2 linked regions of the Homo sapiens genome follow. The protein of the gene in region 2 purifies or fractionates together with the protein of the main gene of each other region. This does not show direct contact. Each region holds a gene or a part of one and is shown on either strand. Other genes may lie near its edges. The genes, in order: SPTBN2 and KGD4.

Region 1 (3,814 bases), on a different chromosome or scaffold from region 2:
GGTGTTTAAGAGAGGTGGACTTAGGTGGACTGGGCACATCGCTGCCTCCCACAATTCACGCCTGGCTCTTCCACCCTCTCAGGTTCGAGACCCTGGAGCCTGAAATGAACACCCTTGCAGCACAAATCACCGCGGTGAATGACATTGCCGAGCAGTTACTGAAGGCCAACCCCCCAGGCAAAGACCGCATTGTCAACACCCAGGAGCAGCTCAACCACAGGTGGGTTTGGGAGGGCAGGACCAGGAAACTGACAGAAAAATGAAGCAATGGGGATGGCAGTGAGAGGCAGGTTTTGTAGGGCCTGGAAGGGTGGCTACAAAGGAGGAAGCAAACCAGTCTGGAATATGTTGGGGAAGGAAAAAGGATGAAAGAGATGAGAGAGGGGGTCAAGGTGGTCTGAAGCGGCTGCTGGCCAGAAAGGGAGGAGTGAAGGGGAGCTACCAAGAGAGAGAGAAGCAGGGAAGAAGCTTCCAAACAGGCCTGGCCAGGGCAGGAAGCTGAACCTTCCCCCTGCTCTCAGGTGGCAGCAGTTTCGGCGTCTGGCAGACGGCAAGAAGGCAGCTCTCACCTCAGCCCTGAGCATCCAGAACTACCACTTAGAGTGCACGGAGACCCAGGCCTGGATGAGAGAGAAGACCAAAGTCATCGAGTCCACCCAGGGCCTAGGCAACGATCTGGCTGGGGTGCTGGCCCTGCAGCGCAAGCTGGCCGGCACGGAGCGGGACCTGGAGGCCATCGCCGCCCGGGTGGGCGAACTGACTCGAGAGGCAAATGCCCTGGCTGCCGGCCATCCCGCTCAGGCAGTGGCCATCAACGCCCGGCTGAGAGAGGTGCAGACCGGCTGGGAGGACCTCAGGGCCACCATGCGGCGTCGAGAAGAGTCGCTGGGGGAGGCGCGGCGGCTGCAGGACTTCTTGCGCAGCTTGGATGACTTCCAGGCCTGGCTAGGCCGCACTCAGACTGCTGTGGCCTCTGAAGAAGGGCCGGCCACCCTGCCTGAGGCAGAGGCCCTCCTGGCCCAACATGCAGCCCTGCGGGGAGAGGTGGAGCGGGCCCAGAGCGAGTATAGCCGGCTGCGAGCCCTGGGCGAGGAGGTGACCCGGGACCAGGCTGACCCCCAGTGCCTCTTCCTACGACAGCGACTGGAGGCCCTGGGAACTGGCTGGGAGGAGCTGGGCCGAATGTGGGAGAGCCGGCAAGGTCGCCTGGCCCAGGCCCACGGCTTCCAGGGATTCCTGCGGGATGCTCGTCAGGCTGAGGGCGTGCTCAGCAGCCAGGTGAAAGTCCAGGGCAAAGTCCCAAGCAGGAGGAAGAGCAAAGTAGGGACCCGGGGAAATGTGAAGGAGCAGGATGGGCAGGAAGGACATGCTAGCAAAATGGGGCAGCGCAGTGGTTCACACCTGAAATTCCAGCACTTTGGGAGGCCAAAGTAGGAGGATCACTTGAGGCTGAGAATATCCAGACCAACCTGGGCAACATGGCAAGACCTTGTCTCTACAAAAAAATTTTTTTAAGAAAATAGAAGAATTTTTTAAAAAGAAAAATGGGAGCCAGACAGGATGGCTCACACTTGTACTCCCAGTATTTTGGGAGGCCGAGGCAGGAGAATAACTTGAGCTCAGGAGTTTGAGACCAGCCTGGGCAACATAGTGAGACCCCCATCTCTATGAAAAAAAAAAATTAACTGGACATGGTGGTGCATGCCTGTAGCTCCAGCTACTGGGGAGGCTGAGGCTGGTGGATCACTGGAGCCAGGAGTTTGAGGCTGCAGTGAGCTATGATATGCCACTGCACTCCAACCTGGGCCACAGAATGAAACCCTCTCTCAAAAAAAAGAAAAAGAAAAAAGAAGGAAAAATGAGAATGAAAAAGACGTGAATATAATTTACTAAAACTGACTTTAGAAGAAATAGAAAGCCCAGTTTGTCATGTAACTGTTAAATGGAATCAGGAGCTAGAAGTGAGATAGAACAGGATTTGGGCTGGGGAATGGAAGGTCCTTCCCACCCAGCTTCCCTGTGACTTTCTGAGGCTCCCATGCTGGCTGGCAGCCTCCCTGTCTTCAGAGCTCTCTGGGCTACCCTCCCTGTCTGCTTGTTGGTCCCTACCTCTCAGATTTGCCCCTGGGTGGGTCCCTCCTAGGGGGGTGAATTGTGCTGGGGAAAATGAGCTGAATGTCATCCCTCCCACACAGGAATATGTTCTGTCTCACACGGAGATGCCAGGGACACTCCAGGCTGCTGATGCTGCCATTAAAAAACTGGAGGACTTCATGAGCACCATGGACGCCAATGGGGAACGGATCCACGGGCTCCTGGAGGCTGGCCGCCAGCTGGTATCTGAAGGCAACATCCACGCCGACAAGATTCGGGAAAAGGCAGACTCCATTGAGAGGAGGTCTGATGAGGACAGTCCATGAATTAGGGTTCCCAGGGGGGAATCGGAGAAACAGGGTGACCTCAAAGATAAACGTGGCACAGGAAACCCACAGATGGGGCAGGAGCTGACAGAGAAGTAGAGGGGAAGAACTAAGTGGTTGGAGAGGGCTGGGAGATTCCACCCCCAACCAGGGCTAAAAGGAAGTCAGGATTCCTGGGTAGCCTCATTGTGCTCCCGGAAGGCGTTATTCCCCTAGAAGAAATGGAGGCCCCTAGGTTAGCCAAAGGGTCACAATCCTTTCACAGCAAATTCCAGAGTTTCACAAGAGGGTGTCGTTCCAGGCACAAGAAGAATCAAGACGCAGCGCAGCAATTTCTGGGCCGTCTTCGGGACAACCGGGAGCAGCAGCATTTCCTGCAAGATTGTCACGAGGTGAGGCTCCCTGGGGCCCCGGGATATTCCCTAGCCATCCCTTTCTCACCTTGAGCCTAGAATAAGTCCAGCACAAGGTACCGGAGACTGTGAGCCCCTTCATGGCTTCTTCCCAAGGCGCCCACTTCTCCTGGCTCACTGTGGCCCTGCTTTTATGCCCCCCTCTCCCCTCCCTTGGAAATGTCCCTGTTTTATGTTTGGTCCAGCTGAAGCTCTGGATCGACGAGAAGATGCTGACAGCCCAGGACGTGTCCTATGACGAGGCCCGCAACCTGCATACTAAGTGGCAGAAGCACCAGGCATTCATGGCCGAGCTGGCTGCCAACAAAGACTGGCTGGACAAGGTGGACAAGGTGAGCAGTGCTGTGGGGGCTGCCTCTGGGCAGAGTCCCCCATGGTACGGGGGAGGGCCTGGCTCCAGGACGTGGTTTTTGTCATGGTTAGAGATTGTGGGGTTCTGGTGCCACAGCTCCATGGTGGAAAGTTATGGCCTCTGGGAAACAAACGTCTTTGTTGGAGACAAAGAGTGGGACAGTGAGTCCAGAACCTTGATAAAGTACAAATTAGCAGGTAGCGAAACTGCAGCCTGGATTTAACGCCATAACTGTTCCTGAGTTCAAAGCAGGATGGTGCTCTTCAGCAGGCTCTGCAAACCTTGTCTGGAAAGGGCTTGGGCTGGATGGTCAATATCTGAGGCTTTGCAGTCCAAACAGTTTCTACTACAACTACTCATCTCTGTCGTTGTAGTGCAAAAGCAGCCTCAGAGAATAAGTGAATGAATGAACATGGCTGTTTCCCAATAAAACTTTATTTGTAAAAACAGGCAGTGGGCCAGATTACCCCGTGGGCTGTATGTAGTCTGCCAATCCTTATTTTCGAGTCTTGCCGTCCCTGGTTCTTGGTCTCCCACCCAGCTGTTCCTCAAGAGTCAAGGACAGATAAAGCTTTATATCTGCTCAGCAAGTATCCCTACAGAACATGGTACGTGCTCAACAGTCTGCG
Region 2 (3,814 bases):
CAATCATTTTGAAAATTAGAAAATTAAAGAATACTTTTTTTGACTACAAAAGTAACACAAATTCTGTGTAAAACATTTGGAAGAACACAGAAGAGCACAAAGAAGAAAACACTATAATCCCAAGACCCACGTAAAACAAATAAAAGACTTTTTTTTTTTTTGAGATGGAGTCTCCTCTGTCACCCAGGCTGGAATGTAGTGGCGTAATCTCTGTTCACTGCAACCTCCGCCTCCCAGGTTCAAGCAATTCTCCTGCCTCAGCCTCCTGAGTAGCCAGGATTACAGGCCTGCGCCACCACACCCCGCTAATTTTTGTATTTTTAGTAGATATGGAGTTTCCCCATTTTACCCAGGCTGGTCTTGAACTCCTGACCTCAAATGATCCACCTGCTTCGGCTTCCCAAAGTGCTGGGATTACAGGCATGGGCCACCATGCCCGGCCCAAATTAAAACATTTGATAGCACTTTATTTTAGTCTTTTTCCTATACCCATAGGAATACTTTTTTTTTTTTTTTTTTAGACAGAGTCTTGCTGTGTCACTCAGACTGGAGTACAGTGCCGCAATCATGGCTCACTGCAACCTCCGCCTCAAGGGTTCAAGTGATTCTCCTGCCTCCGCCTCCCAAGTAGCTGGGATTACAGGTGCCCGCCACCACACCCGGCTAATTTTTATATTTTTAGTAGAGACAGGGTTTCACCATGTTGGCCAGGCTGGTTTCGAACGGCCTCCCAAAGTGCTGGGATTACAGGCGTGAGCCACCATGCCTGGCCTGGAATACATATTTTTGGAATACTGTTTTTGGAACAGATGTTTGAAAAGTATTAACATTTTTGTCCGTAAAATTCCAGATAGTGGTACAGAGGACCTTAAATGGACCTGTCAATATGAAATCTTCTGAATATACAATGCTAAGAATCTAATGAACAAAGTACTATTTTCAACTAATCTATAAATTGCTATGTAACGAATAAGACTGAGGTGGGTTTATCTGCAATATATTTATATATTTGTAGTACATATTATGCATTTTATGTGGGCACAGAAGCAAATAGGTATGGGATTGGCCTAAAAATTCACCACTGTAATTCTGTGGCTGTGAGAAAATGCTGGAATGTGTTCTCTCCCTCACCATAAAATCATGCTCAAGTCTTCCATGCTAAAAAACTTCTCGGCCGGGCATGGTGGCTCACACCTGTAATGCCAGCACTTTGAGAGGCCGAGGTGGGTGGATCATGAGGTCAGGAGATCGAGACCATTCTGGCTAACACGGAGAAACCCCGTCTCTACTAAAAATACAAAAAAAGTAGCCAGGCGTGGTGGCACACACCTGTAGTCCCAGGTACTCGGGAGGCTGAGGCAGGAGAATCGCTTGAACCTGGGAGGCAGAGGTTGCAGTGAGCCGAGATTGTGCCACTGCACTCCAGCCTAGGTGAAAGAGCAAGACTTTGTCTCAAAAAAAAAAAAAAAAAAAAAAGCTGCGCACCGTGACTCACGCCTGTCATCCCAGCACTTTGAGAGGCCAAGGCGGGTGGATCATGAGGTCACGAATTCAAGACCAGCCTGGCCAAGACGGTGAAACCCTGTCTCTACTAAAAAAATAAAAAAATTAGCCGGGCGTGGTGGTGGGCGCCTGTAATCCCAGCTACTCGGGAGGCTAAGGCAGAAAATTGCTTGAACCCTGGAGTGGAAGTCCGAGATCGAGCCACTGCACTCCAGCCTGAGTGACAGAGAGAGGCTCTGTCTCAAAAAAAAAAACTTCTCTATTAACTGTTTCTTCACTTTCATAGCCAAGCTTCTTAAGAGAATGTTCTATCTATCCTATCATCACTCCCCTATTTAGAAGTTTGAAAACTGGCTGAGGTCAGTGGCTCATGCCTGTAATCCCAGCACTTTGGGAAGACGGCTTGAGCCCAGGAGTTTGAGACCAGCCTGAGCAAGAAGATGAGACTCCCTCTCTACAACTTAAAAGAAGAAAAAAAAGAAGTTTGAAAAATGTTCCACAGCTTTCAGGATAAAGTTCAAACTCTTCTTTGGCACTCACAACACCCATTGTGATCTGGCCTCTCCCTACTTTGCCAGCCTTTCTCCCCTACTGTCTTATGTACCCATTGCTCCAAGTATTCTGAAGTATTTTTCCTTTCCCCAATTCATCCTATTTATCCTCATTCCATCTACAGCTTACGTCCTCTGCCATGAAATCTCCCTCCTATCCCATTCCACTTCCATGCCTATCCTTCTGACTGCTTATCCTTTACAACAGCTCAAATGTCACTCTTCTCTAAGAACCTTTCCCAAATTCCAAAGTCTGAGTTAAAAACTCTCCTTATGTTTTCAGAGGACAGATAAGTTAGCCAATGATTATAGAAGAGCACTAAGCTCCTGGACAGTCAGAGACAGAAAACTAAGCACTTCTGCAGTAGCATTCCTGTTACATGGTAAATGCCCAAGTAACAGTTGCCAAATACGTGAATAAACCATTTGTAAGTTAGGTCTAACTGTATAGGCATGTAAATATGTATTATATACTTATACAAATGTACTTTTAATAGATATGGGGTTTTGCCATGTTGGCCAGGCTGGTCTCGAACTCCTGACCTCAGGTGATCTGCCCGCCTTGGTCTCCCAAAGTGCTGGGATTACAGGCATGAGTCACCGTGCCCAGCCTTATGTTTTCTATAATAGTCTTTTATCAGATATGTCTTTTGAAAGTATTTTCTCCCAATATGTGGCTTGCCTTTTTTTGACAGTGTCTCACAGAGCAGAATTTTTTATTTTAATGAAGTCCAGCTTATCAATTAATTTTTCATGGATCATGCCTTTGGTGTTATATCTAAAAAGTCATTCCTAAACCTAAGGTTATTTTTATTTTCTCCTATGTTATATTCTAAGGGTTTTATAGTTTTGCATTTTGCATTTAGGTCTAGGATCCATTTTGAGTTAATGTTTGTGAAGAACGTGAGGTCTGTGTCTAGATGGATATCCAATTTTTTCAGCACCATGTTGAAAAGACTATCTTTTCTCCATTGTATTCCCTTTGCTCGTTTTGTCAAAGATCAGTTGACTATCTCTTTATTTTTACCTTTCCAAATCTTAGTTTTAGCTATGCCTCTTATAAATAGCATAGCACTGGATTTTCATTTGTTAGCCAGTCTGAAAATGTTTTACTTTATTATTTATTTTTTGAGACCAGGTCTTGCTCTGTTACACAGGCTGGGGTGCAGTGGAGTGATCGTGGTTCACTGCAGCGTCAAACTCCTGGGCTCAAGTGATCTTTCCACCTCAGCCTCCTAAGTAGCTAGGACTACAGGTACACACCCACACACTACCCCTCCTGCCTGGCTAATTTTTTTTTTTTTTTTTAGTATTTATTGATCATTCTTGGGTGTTTCTCGGAGAGGGGGATGTGGCAGGGTCATAGGATAATAGTGGAGAGAAGGTCAGCAGATAAACACGTGAACAAAAAGGTCTCTGGTTTTCCTAGGCAGAGGTCCCTGCGGCCTTCCGCAGTGTTTACGTCCCTGGGTACTTGAGATTAGGGAGTGGTGATGACTCTTAACGAGCATGCTGCCTTCAAGCATCTGTTTAACAAAGCACATCTTGCACCGCCCTTAATCCATTTAACCCTGAGTGGACACAGCACGTTTCAGAGAGCACGGGGTTGGGGGTAAGGTTATAGATTAACAGCATCCCAAGGCAGAAGAATTTTTCTTAGTACAGAACAAAATGGAGTCTCCTGTGTCTACTTCTTTCTACACAGACACAGTAACAATCTGATCTCTCTTTCTTTTCCCCACATTTCCCCCTTTTCTTTT

The links.
Region 1: the proteins of KGD4 (region 2) and SPTBN2 purify together in Homo sapiens (affinity purification with mass spectrometry; one large-scale study listed by BioGRID and IntAct). This does not show direct contact.

The regions. Positions count from the first base shown.
Region 1 is NC_000011.10:66,697,990-66,701,803, reverse strand, and holds part of SPTBN2 (spectrin beta chain, non-erythrocytic 2), read left to right. Parts: intron 1-82; coding exon 83-220; intron 221-521; coding exon 522-1,278; intron 1,279-2,195; coding exon 2,196-2,398; intron 2,399-2,721; coding exon 2,722-2,812; intron 2,813-3,018; coding exon 3,019-3,165; intron 3,166-3,635; coding exon of another isoform or gene 3,636-3,814. UniProt on the Homo sapiens protein: Probably plays an important role in neuronal membrane skeleton.
Region 2 is NC_000005.10:69,220,737-69,224,550, reverse strand, and holds part of KGD4 (alpha-ketoglutarate dehydrogenase component 4), read right to left. Parts: intron 1-3,814. UniProt on the Homo sapiens protein: Molecular adapter that is necessary to form a stable 2-oxoglutarate dehydrogenase enzyme complex (OGDHC). Enables the specific recruitment of E3 subunit to E2 subunit in the 2-oxoglutarate dehydrogenase complex (OGDHC).